3 separate regions of the Homo sapiens genome follow, and all the other regions are linked to region 1. The links come from fine-mapping of genetic effects on gene expression. A gene starts in region 1. Each other region holds a variant in brackets. All regions are shown on one strand. Distances are from middle to middle.

Region 1 (8,180 bases):
CTCAGTGATCAGATGAGCAGCAGCGGGGACACAAGTCCTTGGAGACCTACTGACCTTGCTGGGGGTAACTGTGCCTATTCGAGGGGTCCCTATGGGACTTGGGGTCCTCATCATCGTTGCTGGAGGTCAAGGAGTCTACATCAGGGACAGAGGGAAGCATCTAAGGTCCAAGAGGGGCAGGTCTGTCTCCCCAGGCATCCCTTCACTCCCTGCTAGAGTCTCTTACCACCTGTAATCAAGGTGAGATTCTGCAGGACGATCATGGAGCCTCGTGCCAGGCAGAGGTAGCGGCCAGCATCCTCAGGTAGGAAGCTGGCAATCTCTAGGCGGCCCCTCCAGCCCCGTACACGGCCAGCAGGTGCCAGGCGACTGCCCTCCTTGTACCAGTGGCCACCACGCTCAGCCCGCCCACAGCACAGACGCACAGGCTGCCCAAGGGCTACTGTCAGCTCCTGCTCTTGCTGCTCCAGGCTGGGAGCCAGGCAGGGCTCTGTGGGCAGAGGGCAGAGGTCAGCAGACCCCGCAGCCCCATCTGAGGCAGCCTCCTGTGTACAAAGAACACACCGCACATGCAGGGCACAAGCACTTTGCAACGCATGCTGAAGGAGCCACCACTCCTTGACACCCACACAGCCACATGCTGCGGATGCCACACCCAGGGCAAATGCCACACTCTTGGGGCATGTCACACACACAGCATTTAGTGCACACGACAGTGGCCAAGACACACACACACACACACACGCATACACACACACACATACGGACACACACACACACAAGGCACATGCTGTTGGTGCCACATACAGGGTCATGCTGCACCGGGGCATATCACCCTCATAATGCTTATACCACACATGCTGCCTGGACCTCCTAGGTCACACACCCAGTGCACAGAACACACACACACACGCACACACACCCAGGTAAGGAGCTCACCACCAGCTCTGCAGCCCAGCTTAGGGCCCTGCGCCCTGCAAGGCCAGTCCTCTCTCGCAGACACAGTGATAGATGAATGCTTGCTGGAAGCCAGGCACTGACTGAGTCTCAGTGGTTGAGCCCTGCCCTGCCGCCACCTTCTCAGGGCCTGGGCAAGGATCCTTTCCAGCTTTGCTCAGCCCAGCAGCCCCCTCCTGGTGCCCACTCTTCCCACCCCTGCCACCCTCTCCCACCTCAGAAGCCATACCAAGCTCCACTTCCTCAGAGGCCTCCAGGGACAAGACTGGAGGCCCAGGCACACTCAGCAGGACCCCCAACAGGGCCAGCAGCAGCCGCATCTCCTTCTCACAGCTCTCAGGGACCCAAGCTGGACTTCCCACCAACTGCCTTCCTAAAATAGGGAGGGAAAAGAGCTCCTGCTACACGTGCACCTTTGTGGGGGCTTTTCCCTTATTTTGCAGATAAGGAAACTGAGACAGGAAGTGGCCAGCAGATGTGTCCAAGTCCCTGGCCAGGCTGTGGCAGTGCAGACTGGAACCAGCTCTGTAGTAGCCAGAGCCTAAGGCCTCCCCACGGTAGGTTGTGCAAGGGGTCTGGGCTGGGCTTCCTGCTCTCCCTGAGTCCTGCTGGGACCCTGGCACACGTTCACAGAAAGCAGTTTTGGGATTCTTTTTTGGAGGGAAGCAGAGAACGGAGACATATCTTCTGCATGCTCTCGGCACACATAATTTCTTTTTTGCTAAATAAATGAATTGATTGCAGAAGAGCCAAAAAAGAAAGTGAAAAATGACACAAGGTCAAACTTCAGCATCTGGATGGCATCTGATCCGATCCCCACTCCTTACAGCATTACTGACATTTCCAGGGCTGGGTGGTCACAACTGACAAGGCGGCCCCTTCCGTGGCAAGCAGGACCGCGACCCTGGATACCTCTGCTTGTTATGCACCAACTCCATCTGAGGCACACACGGTTTTGTAAAGAATACAGACCCTAATTTTCCATCTGCCAGAGCCAAGTTCAAATCCTGACTCTCACCAACTTGTAATTCCTTGTCTCTGTCTCTCTCTGGCTTACTATCCTCATAGGACTGTTTTGAGGATAAAAGAGAGAACGTGCGTCGGCACGCAGAGTGTTGGAATGTTCTCCTCCCTGTGCCCGGCCCTAGAACGGTTAACCTGTTGCCCTGGGTCTGCCCTTAGCCAGTCACCTCTGGTTCGGATGCTGTTACTGTCAGGCTGTGATGTACACACACCCCAGCTGGCTATCCTCTTCCAAATGCTACCAAGGACGCCTCTGTTCCCCAAAATAGAACACTCAGAACTGAGTCTCAGCTGGGACAAAGGAATCGGTGACCACTGCAGTCCTAGGGGCCTATGGGTGGCACTGGTGTCTCTGGATCTACCCTGCGTGGGAAGCCTATCACACCTCCTCCTCCTTGGTCACTGCCACTCCACTTCCAGTCCATCTGGCTTCCCCTGCCCCTTCTCAAGGCAGGTCATGGCCATCTCTTGCATGGGCCTCTGGAAACATCCTCTCCCTCGGCTCTTCAACCTTCATCTTCCAGCAGAGTTTTAAAAAACTACAAGTCGGCTGGGCGCGATGGTTCACACCTGTAATCCCAGCACTTTGGGAGGCCGAGGTGGGCGGATCACGAGGTCAGGAGATCGAGAACATCCTGGCTAACACGGTGAAACCCCGTCTCTACTAAAAATACAAAAAATTAGCCGGGCGCGGTGGCGGGCGCCTGTAGTCCCAGCTACTCGGGAGGCTGAGGCAGGAGAATGGCGCGAACCCGGGAGGCGGAGCTTGCAGTGAGCCGAGATCGCGCCACTGCACTCCAGCCTGGGCGACAGAGTGAGACTCCGTCTCAAAAAAAACAAAATAAAAAAATAAAATAAAATAAAAAAACAAACAAAAAAACCTGCAAGTCTGCCATGTCATGCCCCCCAGCTTGCAAGCCCTTAATGGCTACCTGTGCCCAGCAGGATCCAGCTCAACATCCTAGGGCTCCCTCTCTGCCGCTGCCTATCTCTTTGGTCACACCGTCTGCCCCTTCAGGAGCGCTGAAGCCATTGGCTTTCAAAACTGGGCACATGTGCTCTCTTGCCCATCCCTCTGTGCCCCTCATTGCTCTTCTCTACCTGACTCAGATACTGCTGTCTCTGGCCCACCTCAACTCTCGAATCCAGTCGGATCCTCCTTGGTAAAACTCCCTACCAAGCTCGGCTTGGCAGGGAGGGCAGCTCTTTGGGTACACAGCTTGGGCTGGGAGTGGGTGGGGAGGCCCGGGGAGTTTATTCCTACCCCAGGCTGCCCTGATATCAGAGTCCTTAGTCGAGTCACCCATGGCTGCTGACCGCTGACCGACCACCCCCCACGTGGGAATGGAGGGCCTGCCTTAGGCATCAGACAGTCCTGGGTTCTCCTTCAGCCTCCCGCACTCGCGCTGGAGGCCCCCGGGCACTAAGTGACTGAACTTTTCGGGGCCTCAGGTCCCTCATCTCTGCCGCCGGCGCGAAGACAGCCGCAGGGACAAGCGCGCTTGTCCTCCCCCACCCTTGCCGGGCCAGCCTGGGGGGAGGTGCGAATCAATGGGTCCCGAGGGTAGCTGCACAGGGCCAGCCTGCCCCCGCCTCGGTGGGCAATGAGTAACCAGCTCCGCGGCCGGGGTGCTCTTTGGACGGAGCGGGACAAAAGGCCCTGTGTGCACTGCGGGTTACTGATTTACCGCCCCCTCCACCCCCTGCCGCCCGGCGGACGCCCAGGTCCCCTGCGCCGGGAGGGGCAGTCCCCGTAGCCCCGCCGCCTCTCGCCCCCTGGCGGCTGGGAGCGCAGCCCGGGCCCACAAGGGTTCCGGCTCACCTCGAGCCTGCGTGACTCCGCGCCCAGCACAGGGTCCTGCTCACCTGGCTCCTCCTCACCTGGCTCCTCCGCCGCCTCACTCCCAGCTCCAGCCGGCCGCGACCCCTGCACGCGGCAGGGTCCGCAGACAGCCCGAGCGCTCCTCGGCCGGGAGCGAGGAATGTACCCGCGACGGCGGCGTGGCCGCGAGCGGCCCACCTCCTGTCCCACCCCGCCCCTCGGGCCCGCCCCCTCCTGCTCGGGCCCGCCCCTCCTTCCACGCCCCCCCCCCCCCCACCCGGGCCCGCCCACCTCCTGCCACACCCCCTCGGGCCCGCCCCGCCTAGACCAGCTCGAGCCGGAGAGAGGTGTGGCCAGGGGTGGCCAAGATCCCCGCCCACCTGGAGAGCCCCGCCCCCGACCCAGTCAGCCCACTCCCGGGACCCCGCCCCAGCCTATACACACACCCCTACACGCAACCCCCCTATACACACCCCATTCAGGCTCCGCCTCTTTCGCCCCACCCAGGCCCCAGGCCAGGCTCCTAAATTCTAGTCTACTACCCAGCTCTACTCCTTGCTTTTCACCCTTCAGGGAATGCCTGGCTCCCCTGTCTTCTGCGCAGTGCCGTGCAGCGGATAGGAGAACCCCTTCCTTCTGCTCCCTCATTTGTTCCCTGCGCAACCTGCGGAGTGATACTTACAACACAAATCTGACTGTGTCAGCCACTCCCTTAAATTTTCCTATAGATTCCCATAGCTCTTTATACATAGATTGCCATGACCCACGCCTCCTGGCTCCCACCCTGCTACTCCTGGGCAGTTTCACGTACCATTCTCTCTTCCTGGAATGGCCCTTGGTCTGGTTAATTTCATATTATTCTCAGCTCACTTCCTTCAGGAAGCCCTCTGGACTTGCAAGCTCCTCTTAGATGACGTCTCTACTGTGAGGATGGAGAAAGAAACAGGGTGAAGTGGTTCAGAGCACAGACTACAGGGCTGGACGTCATAGGCCCAGCTCTCAGCACCATCACACAAGGCCTCAGTCTTCACTGTCCTTTCAGTAAAACAGGCAAATGATAGTCTCACCCACAAGAGGTTGTTGCAAAAAGTAGACATGTTAGCAGTATGTGTAAGCCTGGCATGCAGCGCTTGCTTTGTAATACTAGCTGTAATTATTTAGGACCTGTTATTTCTTCAGCACGCTTGCCAGAATTGTAACTGAACAGTTAATTATGTAAATAGCTGTGGAATGGCCGGGCACAATGACGGGTGCCTGTAGTTCTAGTTACTAGGAGACTGAGGTAGGAGGACAGCTTGAATTCAGGAGTGTGAGGCCAGCCCTGGCAACATAGTTGCCCTGTCTCTATTTTTCAGTAGAGGAACTGTGTCCTCAGACCTCACCATTAGAGTTCAAGTGTCTGGCATACAGTAGGTGCTCCCAGATAGCTCCGTGCCCACCTGGCTCATGTTTGCCTCACCTGTAAGCACTTCTCTCCTGAGCATCTAGACTGTGGCCAAACCAGGAGGCCAGGCAGCCTCTGATCTCTGCCCATCCCTCACCTGAATCTCAAGCCTTCTCCTTCTCTTAAGGCACCTTGAGAGGAAGGGAAATGGGCTGGGTGCACCTGTGGTCCCAGCTACTTGGGAGGCTGAGGCCAGAGGATTGCTTGAGCCCAGGAAGTCGAGGCAGCAGTGAGCCGTGATCGCTCCACTGCACTGTAGCCTGGGCAACAGGCTATGGAGCGAGACCCTGTCTGAGGCTCAGGTCCTGGTTGTCCCCTCTAGCTAGTGTAGACCCTGTCTTAAGAAGCAACTTCCTTTCTCATTGTTACGCAGGCAAGTCTAGTTCTTTCCACCCTCACTCCCAAAGGGATAGTGGCATATCTTTGCATAACTGTAAGGCCCATTAAAGAGACTTAAAATTGTTTTTTTCTTTTTCTTCTTAAGCGAAAGAATGGTCTCCTCCCAAAGATAAATCAGAAAATAATTGAGGCCAGGCATGGTGGCTCATGCCTATAATCCCAGCACTGTGGGAGGCTGAATCGGGAGGATCGCTTGAACTCAGGAGTTCGAGGCCAGCCTGGGCAACATAGTGAGATCTCGTCTCTATTAAAAATATATATTAGGCTGGGCACGGTGGCTCACGCCTGTAATCTCAGCACTTTGGGAGGCTTAGGTGGGTGGATCACGAGGTCAGGAGTTCAAGACCAACCTGGCAAGATGGTGAAACCCCAGCTCTACTAAAAATACAAAAAAATTAGCCAGGCATGGTGGCATGTGCCTGTAATCTCAGCTACTAGGGAGGCTGAGGCAGAGAATTGCTTGAACCCGGGAGGTGGAGGTTGCAGTGAGCCGAGATCGTGCCATTGCACTCCAGACTGGGTGACAGAGTGAGACTTTGTCTCCAAAAAAAAAAAAAAATATATATATATATATATATGTGTGTGTGTGTGTGTGTGTGTGTGTCTGTGTGTGTCTGTGTGTCTGTGTGTATATACATACACACAGACACACCCACACATATATATGTATATTATAAATTTTTTTTTAATTGGTTATCTTTTAAAAACAATTTGTCCTGGTTCCCTTCTCTAGAGTCCTGCCTTGCTGGAGCTCCCAGGACAGATGAGGCTCCTGGCCCTGGGAGCTGCCTGCCCAGAGGGTACCTTGCCAGACCTCCCGGACTGCTGGAGGGGTTCAGCTCCCTGCCTCTGGCCCTCTGCTGGCTCCCCTTGTGAATGTGGTTGTGGGGGGAGACAGGGTGAGCCGCCAGCTGGAGCTGGACCCCACATGGCTTTCATTCACCTTCCCGGGCATTTCCTGAGTTTACCAGAGCCAAAGACAAACTAAAAGTTTTCATAGCTCAGGTCTTGCAACCTCCTTGTCTCCTGAGATGCGCAAATCCCTCAGATTTGCAACCCTCTGATGTCCCTAGGATATGTTCCCCATATCCCTTGTCTGCCTCCTCTCCCCGCACTCATAACCTTTCACACTGACCCTCCACAGAGGCTGATGCTCCCTCACAAAGTCATTCACTCATTCACTCATTCATCTGAATGATTATTTATTGAAGGTTCATTATGTGGCATCCACTGTTTTAAATCCTGGGGATAAAGCCCCGAATTGGACTCTTTTTCTTTTCTTTTCTTTGGGAGACAGTGTCTTGCTCTGTTGTCCAGGCTGGAGTGCAGTGGTGTGATCTTAGTTCACTGCAAGCTCTGCCTCCTGGGTTCAAGTGATTCTCCTGCCTCAGGCTCCTGAGTAGCTGGGATTACAAATGTGCACTACTACACCTGGCTAATTTTTATATTTTTAGTAGAGACAAGGTTTCACCATATTGACCAGGCTAGTCTCAAACTCCTGACCTCAAGTTATCTGCCCATGTCAGCCTCCTCAAATGCTGGGATTACAGATGTGAGCCACCTCACCTGGCCTGGACCCTACTTCTACCCTTCAAGGGGCTGCTGACATTGTAGTGGGGACAGACAGATAAGTAATCAGTTACAGCCTGGGAGATAAGCTGAGCCAGTCAGGGAGAGCACCTAAGCCTTTCACACTGTCTCACTCTCTTGCTGACACGCAATCTTTCACCAGTCACATTTGCAGTCTCTTTCTCAAAGACATTCAGACACGACTGGGCACAGTGGCTCACTCCTGTAATCCCAGCACTTTGGGAGTCTGAGGTGGGCGGATCACTTGAGGTCAGGAGTTCGAGACCACCCTGGCCAACATGGTAAAACCCCATCTCTACTAAAAATACAAAAATTGGCCAGGCATGGTGGCACACGCTTGTAATCCCAGCTACTGGGGTGGCTGAGGCAGGAGAATCACTTGAACCTGGGAGGCAGATGTTGCATTGAACCAAGATCACGCACTGCACTCTAGCCTGGGAAACAGAGCAAGACCCTGTCTCAAAAAAAAAAAAAAATACATTCAGACACACACACACACACACACACACACTCTCTCTCTCTCTCTCTCTCGCTTAGCAGAGGCAAGAGCCTGTCACCCTAAGATCCTGCTGTTAACCTGCCTCTGCCTCAGTTTCCCCACCCAGAAAGCCGTCATGCTCCAGCTTCCTCTTCTTCCTTTTTTTTTTTTTTTTTTTGTGGAGATGGAGCCTCGCTCTATTGCCCAGGCTGGAGTGCAGTGGCGTGATCTTGGCTCACTGCAACCTCCGCCTCCCAGGCTCAAGCAATTCTCCTGCCTCTCCTGCCTCAGCCTTCCTAGTAGCCGGGACTACAGGCGCCTGCCACCACACCCAGCTAATTTTTGTATTTTTGTAGAGACGGGGTTTCACCATGTTGGCCAGGCTGGTCTCGATCTCCTGACCTCAGGTGATCCACCCGTCTCGGCCTCCCAAAGTGCTGGCATTACAGGCGTGAGCAACGGCTCCC
Region 2 (8,180 bases), 99 kb after region 1:
GCCTGCCACCACGCCCGGCGAATTTTTTGTATTTTTAGTAGACTTGGGGTTTCACCGTGTTAGCCAGGATGGTTTCGATCTCCTGACCTCGTGATCTGCCCGCCTCGGCCTCTCAAAGTGCTGAGATTACAGGTGTGAGCCACCGCGCCTGGCCTTTTTTTTTTTTTTTTTTTTGAGACGGAGTTTCACTCTTGTTGCCCAGGCTTGAATGCAATAGTGCCACCATGCCTGGCTAATTTTGTATTTTTAGTAGAGATGGGATTTCTCCATGTTGGTCAGGCTGGTCTTGAGCTCCCGACCTCAGGTGATCGAGAGGCAGTCTTTCTGTGTTGCCCAGGCTGGTCAGATCTGTCTTCTCAATTTGCCAGATTTCATATTCTTTCCCCTCAGTTGTCTTTGCTGTTTCTCCCCAAAGAGATTTGCTCTTTGGGTAGTCTTCATTATGGTAGTAGCAGACCTGAATCTAAAAAGGTAGAGTAAGGTGAATTAAAACTGAGGCCGGGCTTGGTGGCTCATGTCTGTAATCCCAGCACTTTGGGAGGCTGAGGCAGGTGGATCACGAGGTCAGGAGATCGAGACCATCTTGGCTAACACGATGAAACCCCATCTCTACTAAAAATGCAAAAAAAATTAGCCGGGCGTGGTGGCGGGCGCCTGTAATCCCAGCTACTCAGGAGGCTGAAGCAGGAGAATGGTGTGAACCTGGGAGGCAGAGCTTGCAGTGAGCCGAGATAGTGCCACTGCAGTCTGGCCTGGGCGAAAGAGCGAGACTCTGTCTCAAAAAAAATAAAAATAAAAATAAAAAATAAAATAAAAAATAAAACTGAGGACTTGATTAGTCATGATGGCTTGTGCTTCTAATCCTAGCATTTTAGGAGGCCAAGGCAGGAGGATCGTTTGAGGCCAGGAGTTCAAGACCAGCCTGGGCAACACAGCAAGACCCCCATCTCTTTAAAAAAAAAAATTAGCTGAGTGTTGTGGTGTACTCTTGTAGTCCTACCTACCTGGGAAGCTGGGGCAGGAGGATTCTTTGAACCTAAGAGTTACAGGTTGCAGTGAGCTATGATCATACACATTGCATTCAAGCCAAGGCAACAGAACAAGCCCCTATCTCAAGAAACAAAAACATAAATATAAAATCTATTTATATTAGAAATATGGCAACATTTGTACAAAGTTGCATGTGTTTTTTCCATTTCTGTTACAGTTTGGGGTTTAGAAAATTCACTTCTTGCGAATTAATATAAAATTAATTTATTTTAGGAAGTACAAATATGTCATCTTATTTGTGTTTTAATTTGTGTAATGGTAACTTGATAGGTTTTTAACCTTTTCCTGCTGCTATAACAGAATATCTTAGACTGGGTAATTTATAAACAATACAATTTTTTTTGTTCACAGTTCTGAAGTCTGGTAAATGTAAGATCAAGGTGCCTGATGAGGGCTTGCACTGTGCTTAAAAGATGGGACCTTCTTGCTGTGTCTTCACATGGCAGAAGGGTAAAAGGGGCAAACAGGTTCTCTTAGGCCTCTCTTATAAGGGCACTAGTCCCATTCATGAGTGCTGTGTCTTCATGACTTCCCTAAGTCCCCATTTCTTTCTTTGTTTTTGTTTTTTTTTTTTGTAACAGAGTCTCGCTCTGTTGCCCAGGCTGGAGTGCAGTGGCTCGATCTCGGCTCACTGCAAGCTCCACCTCCCGGGTTCACGCCATTCTCCTGCCTCAGCCTCCCGAGTAGCTGGGGCTACAGGCTCCCGCCACCACGCCTGGCTAATTTTTTTGTATTTTTAGTAGAGACGGGGTTTCACCATGTTAGCCAGGATGGTCTCGATCTCCTGACCTCATGATCTGCCTGCCTCGGCCTCCCAAAGTGCTGGGATTACAGACGTGAGCCACTGCGCCTGGCCCCAGGCCCCATTTCTTACCAACACATTGGGGATTAGATGTCAGCATATGAATTTTGGAGGGACACAAACATTTAGACCATAGTGGATAGGTCATATCTAGTTATCTAGTGAGATGTTACTGCTTTAGTATGAATTTATGTATACTTAAATAATAACTAGCTACCTCTGCATTGCATATGCAATAAATATTCTGTTAACTGTATTTAAATACAGAAGTTAAAAGTATATTTCTTTTTTTTTTTGAGGCAGGGTCTTGGTCGGTTGACTAGGCTGGAGTGCAGTGGTGTGATCTTGGTTCACTGCAACCTCCATCTCCTGGGTTCAAGCAATCCTGCCCCAGCCTCTCCAGTAGCTGGGTCTGCAGGCATGTGCCACCACACCCAGCTAATTTTTGTATTTTTAATAGAGATGGGGTTTCACCATGTTGTCCAGGCTGGTCTCAAACTCTTGTCCTCAGATGATCCTCTCACCTTGGTCTCCCAAAGTGCTGGGATTACAGACTTGAGCCACTGCGCCTGGCTAATTTTTTCATCTTTGTAATTTCTTGTTCTTTAGTCATTAAAAATATGCATTAAATGCAGAAAAGGACGTTTGTGTGTCGAGTTTTATCATGGGGAATGATTTTGTAAATTGTAAGCATCTGTGTGTGTATGTTGTTACTATCCCTTAATTTAGAATTTTTTAATCCTTTAAGTGTTTTTTTTAGAAAAACTTTAATGCTAGTATTGTACAGACTACTTCTGATAATAAGATGTAACAACCCCCTTAGGAGTAATTGAATGGTTTGAGAAGTTTGTTACAAAGTTAAGGTGGCTTTATTTAAATCTGTGATTGAGTCAGTGATTCTCTGCTCTGGCTGTAAAATAAAATCATCCGGGGCTCCCCTTTTTAAAAAATTGAGGTAAAATTCACCTAACAGGCTGGGCACGGTGGCTTACCCTGTAATCCCAGCACTTTGGGAGGCCAAGGTGGGTGGATCATGAGGTCGAGAGATCGAGACCATCTTGGCCAACATGGTGAAACCCCATCTCTACTAAAAATACAAAAATTAGCCTGGCGTGGTGGCACATGCCTGTAGCCCCAGCTGCTTGGGAGGCTGAGGCAGGAGAATTGCTTGAACCCGGGAGGTGGAGGCTGCAGTGAGCAGAGATCGCACCACTGCACTCCAGCCTGGCAACAGAGTAAGACTCTGTCTCCAAAAAAAAAAAAAAAAAAAAAATTCACCTAACAAAATCTACCATTTCAGTCATTTTAAGTGTACAATTTGGTGGCTTTTAATAAATTCACAGTGTTGTGCAATTACCACTTTCTAATTCCAGAACATTTCTATCATCCCCAAAATAAACCTTATATCCATTAAGCAGTCATTGTACATTTTCCCCTATCTCATCTTCTGGTAATCACTAATCTGCTTTCTGCCTATGGATTTGCCTATTCTGGATGTTTCTTATAAATAGAATCATACAATATGTGCCTTTTATGTCTGGCTTCTTTCGCTTGGCATGTTTTCAAGGTTCATCCATGTTGTAGCATGTATTAATACTTCATTCCTTTTGTTTCCCCATAGTGGCTACACCATTTTACATCCTATCAATAATACAGTGTACTAGAGTTCCAGTTTCTCCAGCATCCTTACCAACACTAGTTATTTTCCATTATTTAAAAAATAGCCAGCCATCAGAGTGGGTATAAAGTGATATTTCATTGTGGTTTTGATTTGCGTTTCCCTCATGATTAATGATTTGAGTTTTTTTTTTTTTTTTTTT[TTG/G]GACAGGGGCGTAGTCTGTCACCCAGGCTGGAGTGCTGTGGCACGGATATTGGTTCACTGCAGCCTTGACCTCCTGGGCTCAATTGATCCTCCATCCTCCCACTTGAGCCTCCCAACTAACTGGGACTACAAGTGCGCCACCACATCTGGCTACATTTCGTATTTTTTGTATAGGGTTTTGCCGTGTTTCCTGGGCTGGTCTCAAACTCCTGGGCTTAAGTGATCCACCAGTCTTGGCCTCTCAGAGTTTTGGGATTACAGCCCACTCTGCTGGGCTACTTTTACGTTTGATGTCTTTTTTTTTTGTGAGACAGGGTCTTGCTCTGTTGCCCAGGCTGGAGTGCAGTGGTGTGATCACAGTTTACTGCAGCCTCAACCTCCTGGGCTTAGGTGATCCCTCCTCCTTAGCCTGCCAAGTAGCTGGGACTACAGGCATTAGCTGCCATGCCTGGCTAATGTTTATTTTTATTTTATTTTTTTGAGACAGGGTCCCACTCTGTCACCCAGGCTGGAGGGCAGTGGTGTGGTCTTGGCTCACTGCAACCTCTGCCCTGGGTTCAAGCAGTCCTTTTACCTCAGCCTCCTGAGTAGCTGGGACTACCTGTGTGCACCACCATGCCTGGCTAGTTTTTTTATTTTTATTTTTTGGTAGAGATGGGGTTTCACCATGTTGGCCAGGCTGGTCTCAAACTCCTCACCTCGAGTGATACACCAGCCTCAGCCTCCTAAAGTGCTGGGATTATAAACATGAGCCACTGTGCCCAGCCAGAAATATAATTTTTAAAATTTCAGTTTTGATTGTTTATGTCTAGCATATAGGAATGCAATTGGTTTTTGTATGTTGACTTGTTTCCTGCATTGATACAAGGCAAGATAACCTTGATGAACTGTTGATTTTGTTGTTGTTTTGAGATGGAGTTTCGCTCTTGTCGCCCAGGCTGGAGTGCCAATGGCACGATCTTGGGTCACTGCAACCTCTGCCTCCCGGGTTCAAGTGATTCTCCTGCCTCAGCCTCCCAAGTAGCTGGGATTACAGGCGCCCGCCACCACGCCTGGCTAATTTTTGTATTTTTAGTGGAGACAGGGTTTCACCATATTGGCCAGGCTAGTCTCAAACTCCTGACCTCAAGTAATCTGCCCGCCTCAGCCTCCTGAAGTGCTGGGATTACAAGTGTGAGTCACTGTACCTGGCCTATAATAGTTTTTTAATGTGTTTCTTAGTGTTTTTTTTTAAACACAGGTCATGTCATCTGCAAATCGTGATAGTTTTACTTCTAAGTTGAGTATCTTTTATTTCTCTTTGCTTAATTGTTCTGCCTAGAACCCTAAGTATAATGTTCAATGATTAAAGCAGACATTGTTTTTTTTGAGATAGAACCATGCCCTGTTGCCCAGGCTGCAGTAGCTGGGACCACAGGCATGCCACCATGCTGAGCTAATTTTTTAATTTTTTGTAGAGACAGGGTCTTGCTATGTTGATGAGGCTGGTCTCTTAACTTGTGGGCTCAAGCCATCCTCCTGCTTTGGTCTCCCAAAATACTGGGATTATAGGTGTGAGCCAGTGTGCCCAGCCTTTTTTTTTTTTTTTTTTTGGAGACAGGGTCTTGCTCTGTTGCCCAGTTGCCTAGGCTGAAGTTCATCGGCATGATCATAGCTCATGGCAGTCTCAAACACACTCAAGCTATCCTCCTGCCTCAGCCTCTTGAGTAGCTGGGACTGTAGGTGCTCACCAGTGTGCCTTACTTTTTTTTTTTTTTTTTTTTTTTTTTTTGAGATGAAGTCTTACTCTGGCACCCAGGCCGGAGTGCAGTGGCACAATCTCAGCTCACTGCAATCTCCACCTCCTGAGTTCAAGTGATTCTCCTGCCTCAGCTTCTGGATTAGGTGGGATTATAGTCACACGCCACCACGCCGAGCTAATTTTTGTGTTTTTAGTGGAGATGGGGTTTTACCATGTTGGCCAGGCTGGTCTCGAACTCCTGACCTCAGGTGATCAGCCCACGACGGCCTTCTATCCTGTAGACACAGGATGCCATGTCTTGTCTCTACAAAAAAAAAAATACGTTGCATAGGATGGTCTCAAATTCCTGACCTCAAGTGATCCTCCTGCCTTGGCCTCCCAAAGTGTTGGGATTACAGGGGTGAGCCACTGCGCCCAGCTGAAAGGAAACATTCTTGTCTTGCTCCTTGTCGAAAGGAGAAAGCATTCAGTCTTGTACCTTTAAACATGATGTTAGCTTATTAGTTATGGGATTTTTGTAGAAGTCCTTTATCAGGTTGAGGCATTTGGTATTTAAAAAATCTTAACCTAGTTAACATAGTGAGATCCTATCTTATAAGGAATAAAAAGTAAATTAAATTAGCCAGGTGTGCTGGCACACCCCTGTGGTCCCAGCTGCACAGGAAGCTGAGGTGGGAGGGTTGTTTGAGCCAAGGAGGATGAGGCTGTGGTGAGCTACGATCATGCCACTGCACCCTAGCCTGGGTGACAGAGCGAGACCTTGTCTCAAAAAAGAAAAAAAACTTGTAGGTAAATTATAATATGTAGTCAAGAAAAGCAATTATCTAAATTGATGTTTAAAGAACTAGGATACATGACTATATTATTGATACTGAAATTTCACCATGGAGAATGAGATTTGTATATTTATATAGTTGTTTTTTTTTTTTTTTTGAGACAGAATTCCCCTCTTGTTGCCCAGGCTGGAATGCAGTGGTGCGATCTCAGCTCACTGCAACCTCCGCCTCCCGGGTTCAAGTGATTGTCCTGCCTCAGTCTCCTGAGTAGCAGGGATTACAGGCATGCGCTACCACGCCCGGCTAATGTTTGTATTTTTAGTAGAGACAGGGTTTCACCATGTTGGCCAGGATAGTCTCCAACTCCTCACGTCAAATGATCCACCTGCCTCAGCTTCCCAAAGTGCTGGGATTACAGGCATGAGCCACTGTGCCCAGTCTATGTTTCTCTCTATAGAAAAAAAAACCATTTTTTCCCTATATTTTTCTAAAAAAAATTCCTCTATATTTTTATTTTTTGTATTTATTGATCATTCTTGGGTGTTTCTTGGAGAGGGGGATGTGGCAGGGTCATAGGATAATAGTGGAGAGAAGGTCAGCAGATAAACACATGAACAAAGGTCTCTGGTTTTCCTAGGCAGAGGTCCCTGTGGCCTTCCGCAGTGTTTGTGTCCCTGGGTACTTGAGATTAGGGAGTGGTGATGACTCTTAACAAGCATGCTGCCTTCAAGCATCTTTTTAACAAAGCACATCTTGCACTGCCCTTAATCCATTTAACCCTGAGTTGACACAGCACATGTTTCAGAGAGCACGGGGTTGGGGGTAAGGTTATAGATTAACAGCATCCCAAGGCAGAAGAATTTTTCTTAGTACAGAACAAAATGGAGTCTCCTATGTCTACTTCTTTCTACACAGGCACAGTAACAACCTGATCTCTCTTTCTTTTCCCCACATTTCCCCCTTTTCTTTTTGACAAAACCGCCATCGTCATCATGGCCTGTTCTCGTTGGTCGCTGTCTCTTCGGAGCTGTTGGGTACACCTCCCAGATGGGGCGGCCGGGCAGAGGCACTCCTCACTCCTAGATGGGGCGGCCAGGCAGAGGCACTCCTCACTCCTAGATGGGGCGGCCAGGCAGAGGCGCTCCTCACATCCCAGACGATAGGCAGCCGGGCAGAGGCGCTCCCCACTTCCCAGACGGGGTGGCGGCCGGGCAGAGGCACTCCTCACTTCCCAGACGGGGAGGCCGGGCAGAGGCACTCCTCACTTCCCAGACGGGGCGGCCGGGCAGAGGCACTCCCCATTTCCCAGACGGGGTGGCGGCCGGCAGAGGCGCTCCTCACATCCCAGATGGGCCGGCCGGGCAGAGGCACTCCTCACTTTCCAGATGGGGCGGCCGGGCAGAGGCGCTCCTCACTTCCCATTCGGGGCGGCCGGGCAGAGGCGCTCCTCACTTCCCAGACAGGGCGGCCGGGCAGAGGCACTCCTCACTTTCCAGACAGGGCGGCCGGGCAGAGGCACTCCTCACTTCCCAGACGGGGCGGCCGGGCAGAGGCACTCCTCACTTCCCAGACGGGGCGGCCGGGCAGAGGCGCTCCTCACTTCCCAGACGGGGCGGCCGGGCAGAGGCGCTCCTCACTTCCTCCCAGACGGGGCGGCTGGGCAGAGGCACTCCTCACTTCCCAGATGGGGTGGCCGGGCAGAGGTGCTCCTCACATCCCAGATGGGGTGGCGGCCGGGCAGAGGCACTCCTCACTTCCTCCCAGACGGGGCAGCCGGGCAGAGGCGCTCCTCACATCCAAGACGATGGGCGGCCAGGCAGGGGCTCCTCACTTCCTAGACGGGGTGGCGGCCGGGTAGAGGCGCTCCTGACTTCCCAGACGGGGTGGCCGGGCAGAGGGGCTCCTCACATCCTAGACGATGGGCAGCCAGGCAGAGACACTGCTCACTTCTTAGATGGGGTGGCGGGCGGGCAGAGGCTGTAATCTTAG
Region 3 (8,180 bases), 38 kb after region 1:
AAAAAAAAAAGGTAAAAACAAGGAATTCATCCTTTACCAATGAGTGGTGAATGGATCCTGCAAGTCAGCAGAAGATTTCCATGCTTTCTCTCACTCTACAGATGTTCCTTGACTTACAATGGGGTTACATCTAGATAAACTTATTACCAATTGCTGCCTAGCAGTGCAAGAGAAGTACAGTTTCTACTCAACATCTATTGCTTTCACACCATCGTAAAGTTGAAAAAAATCATAAAGCTGAACCATAGGAAGTTGGGGACCATGTGTACGTGTAGTTTTAGTAGTTTTTCTTAGTACCAGTATCTCCTTAACATAACCACAACCAAAGAATGGGGGAGGCAAAACTTTAATGTAGGGGTCTAAATTCTGCTGATAGGAAGCAACCTTTTCTCTCTCAGGGGTTCACCTTTGTGGAGGTACAAAGTAAGAACTATCAGAACATGAGATTCTGATCTAATCCGCTAAGGGTCCTTGGCCCAAATCTGGCTTGCAGACAGGTCTGACTTACACAGGGTTTAAAAATAGTTTTTTTTTTTTTTGGCTGGGCTTGGTGGCTAATGCCTCTAATCCCACCACTTTGGGAGGTCATGGCGGGTGGATCACTTGAGGTCAGGAGTTCGAGACCAACCTGGCCAACACGGTGAAACTCTTGTCTCTACTAAAAATACAAAAAAAATTAGCCGGAAATTAGCCATGTGGGGTGGCACATAACTGTAATCCCAGCTACTCAGGAGGCTGAGGCATAAGAATCGCTTGAACACAGGAGGCAGACGTTGCAGTGAGGTGAGATGGTGTCATTGTACTCCAGCCTGGGAGACAGAGTGAGACTGTCTCAAAAAAAAAAAAAAATTGTTTTTTTGATACATGTTCTCGCTCTCACTCAGGTTGGAATACAGTGGCACAATCATATCTCACTTTAGCCTTGACCTCCTGGGCTCAAGTTATCCTCCCACCTCAGCCTTCCCAAGGTGCTGGGACTACAGACATGCGCCACATGCCCAGCTAATATTTAAAATTTTTAGTAGAGATGGGATCTCACCATGTTGGCCAGGCTGGTCTTGAACTCTTAGGCTCAAGTGATCCTCCTACCTTGGCATCCCAAAGTGTTTGGATTACAGCATAAGCCACTATGCCTGGCTGGGCTTAAAAATTTTTTAATTTAGTTACACATTTAAAAATCAGAGGGGCCGGGTGCAGTGGCTCACGCCTGTAATCTCAGCACTTTGGGAGGCCGAGGCGGACGGATCACGAGGTCAGGAAATCGAGACCATCCTGCCCAACATGGTGAAACCTTGTCTCTACTAAAAATACAAAAATTAGCCGGGCGTGGTGGTGTGTGCCTGTAGCCCCAGCTACTCGGGAGGCTGAGGCAGGAAAATCGCTTGAACCCAGGAGGTGGAGGCTGCAGTGAGCTGAGATTGCGCCGCTGCACTCCAGCCTGGGTGACAGAGGGAGACTCCATCTCAAAAAACACAAACGCAAAAACAAAAACAGAGGGATTTCTATATAAATCTGGCTTTCCAGAGTCTTTTGAAAACCTGAAAGAGGGCTGGGCGCGGTGGCTCACGCCTGTAATTCTAGCACTTTGGGAGGCCGAGGTGGGCGGATCACAAGGTCAGGAGATCGAGACCATCCTGGCTAACATGGTGAAACCCCGTCTCTACTAAAAATACAAAAAAATTAGCTGGGCATGGTGTCAGGCACCTGTAGTCCCAGCTACTCAGGAGGCTGAGGCAGAAGGATGGCATGAACCTGGGAGGTGGAGCTTGCAGTAAGCCGAGATCGCGCCACTGCACTCCAGCCTGGGTGACAGAGCAAGACTCTGTCTCAAAAAAAAAAAAAAAAAAAAAAGAAAAGAAAACCTGAAAGATATGGTAACAGCTGAGTAGGAATGGCATTCACTCTTCAGCTGACCATATCCCCTTCCTGGCTCTCATTTTAATTTCTCATCTGGCTTCTGTAGCCATCTGAGTTCGCAAACCCTACTTACAAGACCTAAGGAGGAAAAGCACAACGTCAGCTGGTCCGGGTAGCCCCAGTGGCCAAACCCTGGTCCAGCTCTGGGTGTGAGCTAGGCCCCCTCACCTGGAAAGTCAGTGACAGCAGGGTCCGCCAGCCGCCCATAGCGTGCCATTAGTTTGAGCTTGGTCTCCTGTTTTCTGTGTTTCTTGCCCACATAATGTTGTTGAGCCATGACAGGGTCGTTGAAAGTTGCATGGCAGAGGCTGCAGAACTTGTCTGGGTCTATCATCTCTCTATTCTGGTGCAAGGCTAAGGTGGAGGCCACAAGGAAAGGATTTGTAAGGCGTTTTGACAGAGCTGCAGTGAGAGAGTTCAAACAGAAACAATGAAAAAACCCAGAAGGTGTCAGGCTTTTGAGTATGCTGAATAGAAAGGGCTGTGACACCAGTTAATCCTACTGCAGATGTGGCACTGCCTGTGTGAGTCACACAGGTGAATGCATTCTCTAATTGGGAAACCTGGGAAGATTTGAGGGAGCCCAAAGACTGGCTATTTCATTCAGCGGCTTTAACTACTTTAAGCCCACAAATCCTGGTGGTTCTCATATTCTTAGGAGGCCCTGAGCTTCTCCTGTCAGGCTGCCAAGTTACAATAGACTAGAGATGCACACTTGCACTCTTGCAGGGATACCTCAGTACTTCCCAGAACTTCACAGCAAGTGGGACACGAAGTTTGGGAGTTTTATTCTCATCCTTAAAGTAATACAGTTGCAGAGCTGGGAACAAATGCACAGATACAGAAATTGAGGCTTGAGTTCCTGGAGCTCATACAAGGTCATTCAGAAAAGGTAACCATACTAGGGATGCCTTTTAGGCTACATTGCATATTATAGGCTGAGTAGAGAGAAAAGAGGACCATTAACATTTAGTTATGCGTTTTGCTCACATCTGTAATCCTAGCACTTCAGGAGGCCAAGGCAGGCGGATCACGAGGTCAAGAGATTGAGGCCATCCTGGCCAACATGGTGAAACCCTGTCTCTCCTAAAAATTCAAAAATTAGCTGGGCATGGTGGCGTGTGCCTGTAATCCCAGCTACTTGGGAGGCTGAGGTAGGAGAATCACTTCAACCCAGGAGGCGGAGGTTGCAGCGAGCCGAGATTGCGCCACTGCACTCCAGCCTGGGCGACAAGAGCGAAACTCCACCTCAAAAAAAAAAAAATTAGTGATGTGTTTTCTACATATATTTTCTCCTTTGGTCCTCAGAACTACCCCAATGAGGTAGGTATCACTTTGCCACATTATTCAGAAAAACTGAGGCTCAGATGAGTGAAGTGGCTTGCCCAAGGTGACCCA[G/A]CCAGTGAGTGAAGCCAGGTCTGTGACCCTAAAGCCTGTGCTCTCTTTGCTATGCCAGGCTGCCAGTGTGGCAAGAAGACCTGAAGGCTATAGCTCTTACTTACGCCTTCAGAAAACATCCCTGATTCTGGCCAATGAATTCAGTGAATCAGAGCCTGGTATAGGCATACATGCGAGCCTCTTGTGCATCAACATATGGCTTGATGTTGACTCTAGGCTGCGCTGCTGCCTCATAAAGCGGATGCCACGACTCACTAACAAGTCCATGTGGCTGAAATGGTGTCAACCTAGCAACTACTGCTTTAAAAATGTGGGGCCCAGAAGCCCCCACCAGTGGTGGAGGACTGATGGGGCTCAGCAGGACTCACAGATGATATGTCTCAGATGCTCTTCCATACCTGTATCACTTCAACTGGGGAAGTTTTGAGGATTTTGGGCAAGCCAGAAGAAATTTGCTGGCCTTTCCCACAATGGTTTTTCTAGTATAGGGAATTTCAGTTTCTCTGCTTGTTGATTTTGTTTCAGCAAGTCATCAAAAAAGTAATGTACATGTTGTAGAATATTTTATAATATGAGAAAATATTCTGTTTGTGGTGTTGAGTGTAAAAAAAGCAAGTTACAGGCCAGGCGCAATGGCTTGTGCCTGTAATCCCAGCACTTTGGGAGGTTGAGGCAGGCAGATAATCTGACTCAGGAGTTCTGAGACCAGCCTGGCCAACATGGTGAAACTCAGTCTCTACTAAAAAAATACAAAATTAGCTGGGTGTGGTAGTGCATGCCTGTAATCCCAGCTACTCAGGAGGCTGAGGCAGGAGAACTGCTTGAACAGGTGGGCGGAGGCTGCAGTAAGCTGAGATTGCGCCATTGCACTCCACTCTGAGCGAAAAGAGTGAAATTCTGTCTCAAAAAAAAAAAAAAAGAAAAAAAAAGAAAAAAACAAGTTACACATCAATCTGCTTCTTATGTCCTCAATTTTATAGAACAACAACAAACGCATAGGTGACAGCATGGAAAAAAGATCAAAAGCACAGAGAGTAGAGTGTGTTTCACTATTTTCCGACTTTTCCTTTCTTTTTTTTCTTTTTGAGATGGAGTTTTGCTCTTGTTGCCCAGGCTGGAGTGCAATGGCACGATCTTGACTCACTGCAACCTCTGCCTCTGGGGTTCAAGCGATTCTCCTGCTTCAGTCTCCGAAGTAGATGGGATTACAGGCATACGCCACCATGCCCAGCTAATTTTGTATTTTTAGTAGAGATGGGGTTTCTCCATGTTGGTCAGGCTGGTCTCAAACTCCTGACCTCAGGTGATCCACCCGCCTCAGCCTCCCAAAGTGCTGGAATTACAGGCGTGAGCACCCGGCCTACTATTTTCCAACTTTTCTGTAATGAATGTAGATTTTTAACATCAGAAAAGAGGTATAATGGTTGTTAAGAGAGAACGGTCATTCTTTGAGATACTGAACAGAAGCATCAGAAGTGAAAGTGTAAGTAAGTCTAGAACCATTTAATGCGCATCCAATAAAATGAGGGATATAGAGTCTGTTCTCAGAAAATAACCTGAAATGTAATAAAGTGTTCTACAGAGATGTTCACTGTAGTGTTATCTGTAACACCAAAAAGTGGGGGGTGGGGAGATTAAATGTTCAGCATTAGACGAATATTAAATGTAGTACGATGCAGTCACTAAAAATGCTTATAAAGAATTTTTTAATAACATGGGGAAATACAAATGTCATATTAAATAAAAAACATATAGAAGGCAATTGTATGGCCAGGTGCGGTGGCTCATGTCTGTAATCCTAGCACTTTGGGAGGCAGAAGCGGGTGAATCACCTGAGATCAGGAGTTAGAGATCTGCCTGGCCAACATGCCGAAACCCCATCGCTAGTAATACAAAAATTAGGCAGGGCACGGTGGCTCATGTCTGTAATCCCAGAACTTTGGGAGGCTGAGGTGGGTGGATCACCTGAGGTCAGGAATTCAAGACCAGCCTGAGCAATATGTTGAAACCCTGTCTCTATTAAAAATGCAAAAATTAACTGGGCGTGGTGGCAGGTGCCGGTAGTCCCAGCTACTCAGGAGGCTGAGTCAAGAGAATTGCTTGAACCCAGAGGGTGGAGGTTGCAGTGAGTCAAGGTTGCACCACTGCACTCCAGTCTAGGCGACAGCAAAACTCCATCTCAAAAAAACAAAAAAACAACATTAGCCGGGTATGGTGGTGGGCACCTGTAATCCCAGCTATTCAGCAGGTGGAAGCAGGAGAATTGCTTGAACCTGGTGGGGCAGAGGTTGCAGTGAGCTGAGATTGCGCCATTTCACTCCAGCTTGGGCAAAAGAGGGAGACTCCATCTCAAAAAAAAAAAAAAACAAAAAACAAACAAACAAAAAAGGCAATTGTACATACCATACGGTAAGATCATTGTTTGAGGCCAGGAGTTCAAGACCAGCCTGGGCAACATAGTGAAACCCCGTCTCTAATAAAAACACAAAAATTGGCCAGGCGCGGTGGCACGCGCCTGTAGTCCCAGCTACTTGGGAGGCTGAGGCAGAAGAATCGCTTGAACCCAGGAGGCGGAGGTTGCAGTGAGCCGAGATCGTGCCACTGCACTCCAGCCTGGGTGACAGAGCAAGACTTCATCTCAAAATAAATAAATAAATAAATAAATAAATAAATAAAAATAAATAAAAAAATTTTAAAAACCCCACACGTGTAATCCATATGTGCATACTGGTATTTTAAAACATCACCAACATATTAACAGTATTTCTCTCTTGGTGTAGGATTTAGGTGATATTTTACTTTCTTCTTTGTATCTTTTGCAATTGTTTGAAGTGGAATTATTCATAATGAGTATGCATTGTTTTTATAAAAACATGAAAGTTATTTAAAGTAGTCTATGTTTATATGCACATATACACGGAGTTAACCTAGATATACACAAAACGAATATACACACAGATATACAAAGATACATATAACAATAAGATTATAGGAGAAACAGATTATAGGAGAAACCAAAATGTTAACAGTGTTTATCTGTGAATGGTAAAATTATGGGTAACTTTTCTTTCCATTTATCCATGTTTTCCTTATCTCTTACAACATGATTATATTACTTTACATTAAAAAGTGTTTAATTTCAGAAATATAGTTATAAAGTTGTGTAATAACATGGAAATGTGCTTAAGCTGTAAAATTAAATGAAAAGTAAAAGCGGGATATAAAGGGTACCTGCATTATGATCACAACTATATAAAAACAAAGTATGTGGCAAAAGCTGAAAGTGAATATGGAAAATAATCTCGAGTATGAAATTTCAGGGACAAGGCATAATGCAGAGAATTTTCCCATTTGTGGGAAGAGAAGTCTGTGACCTTATAAAATTGGTTTTTTTTTTTTTTTTTTTGAGACGAGGTCTTGCTCTGTCCCCCAGGCTGGTGTACAATGGTGCGATCTCAGCTCACTGCAACCTCCAGCTCCCGGGTTCAAGCGATTCTCTTGCCTCAGTCTCCCAAGAAGCTGGGACTACAGGCTCGTGCCACCACACCCAGCTAATTTTTGTTATTTTTAGTAGAGATTGGGTTTCACCGTGTTGACCAGGCTGGTCTTGAACTCCTGACTTCAAGTGATCTGCCCACCTCAGCCTCCCAAAGTGCTGGGATTACAACAGGCATGAGCCACCATGCCCGGCCTATGTCCTGTGTTTTTAATACACATTATTGTATCCTCACAACCGATGAAGTAGACAGTATTATTATCATTTTATAGGTTAGGCAGTTCAGACACAAAAAAGTCATATAAACAGTAACAGTGCCAGGCTTTAAACCTGGGACTCTGTGACTTCAAAGTCCACATTCTGCTGTTTCATACCATGAATAACTAGATGTGGGTGTGATAAAAAGGTGTAATTATGAGTGGCCAGGTGTGGTGGCTCATGCCTGTAATCCCAGCACTCTGGGAAGCTGAGATGGGAGTATCACTTAAGGCCAGGAGTTCAAGACCAGCCTGAGCAATATAGTGAGAAGCCATCTCTATTTAAAAAAAAAGGTTTTGGCCGGCGTGGTGGCTTATGCCTGTATTCCTAACACTTTGGGAGGCCGAGGCAGGTGGATCACGAGGTCAGGAGTTTGAGACCATCCTGGCTAACACAGTGAAACCCCGTTTCTACTAAAAAATACAAAAAAATTAGCTGGGCATGGTGGTGGGCACCTGTAGTCCCAGCTACTTGGGAGGCTGAGGCTGAAGAATGGCATGAACCTGGGAGGTAGAGCTTGCAGTGAGCCGAGATCATGCCACTGCACTCTAACCTAGGCAACAGAGCGAGACTCCATCTCAAAAAAAAAAAATTATGAGTGATTTTTCACCCTACCTTTGAAGGCTTCCAAAACACAGTTGTCAGTAAACACAAAAAGGATAATAGTATTACTAATAGTGTAGTCTACTTCTTGGTCCAAAATAGAGAAGCAAAAATTATCAAGAAAACAATGAAATAAACATCAAAGAACTTTCACTCTTGACTAATTGCAATTAGCAGAGGTTAAAACCCCAGAAAGTCAGGAGTTAATGAGATGAAAGTGAGGGCTGAGCCCTAGTCGTGACGAGATAAAGGGGGCTATTTCAGAAGTCACTGTACTGGGAATGAATTCATGGCAGTTACAGATTGTGGGGCAGTAGTAGCAGCACTGAAGTATTCAGCTTTGAAAGGCAAGTCCCTGTCTTGAGGAGAACAGGCAGCTTTTGAGGATTAAAGTGAGTAGGCCATAACCTGAGCATGTGAAAAAGACAAGGATTTAGCTTTCAACTTGGAACATGCAGTAATAAGGGCAGGTGGATGCTGGGATGGAAAAATCTAGTGGGAGAGGTAG

Direction of the effects. Alleles are on the strand shown, and positions count from the first base shown. SD is a standard deviation of normalised expression in the study named.
In carriers of allele G in region 2, the expression in B cells of the gene that starts at base 3,965 in region 1 tends to be higher than with TTG alone (large effect, 1.0 SD a copy in Schmiedel 2018).
For the expression in anterior cingulate cortex of the gene that starts at base 3,965 in region 1, A is the high allele of the variant in region 3 and G is the other (large effect, 1.0 SD a copy in GTEx).

Evidence for each region. PIP is the estimated chance that this variant, and not a neighbour inherited with it, causes the effect. A credible set is the group of variants that fine-mapping cannot tell apart.
Region 2: its variant is the best candidate, but not a certain one, in a credible set for the expression of FGFR4 in B cells (Schmiedel 2018, PIP 0.51).
Region 3: its variant is the best candidate, but not a certain one, in a credible set for the expression of FGFR4 in anterior cingulate cortex (GTEx, PIP 0.78).

The regions. Positions count from the first base shown.
Region 1 is chr5:177,082,700-177,090,879 of GRCh38, reverse strand. FGFR4 (fibroblast growth factor receptor 4) reads right to left here and starts at 3,965. Exons shown (of 18, transcript NM_213647.3): 1 at 3,803-3,965; 2 at 1,187-1,330; 3 at 227-490; 4 at 55-135. The coding sequence starts at 1,277. RefSeq lists an enhancer at 3,449-3,899, silencers at 3,595-4,054, 4,305-4,354 and a promoter at 3,865-4,084.
Region 2 is chr5:176,983,625-176,991,804 of GRCh38, reverse strand. All of the region lies in intron 1 of UIMC1 (ubiquitin interaction motif containing 1), which reads left to right. Among named protein-coding and RNA genes, the nearest start is that of UIMC1, 19 kb to the left of the region's middle. RefSeq lists a silencer at 6,850-7,050. The variant TTG/G (reference allele first, on the strand shown) is at 3,673.
Region 3 is chr5:177,044,842-177,053,021 of GRCh38, reverse strand. It overlaps ZNF346 (zinc finger protein 346), which reads right to left. Exons shown (of 7, transcript NM_012279.4): 5 at 2,086-2,271. Among named protein-coding and RNA genes, the nearest start is that of ZNF346, 26 kb to the right of the region's middle. The variant G/A (reference allele first, on the strand shown) is at 3,316.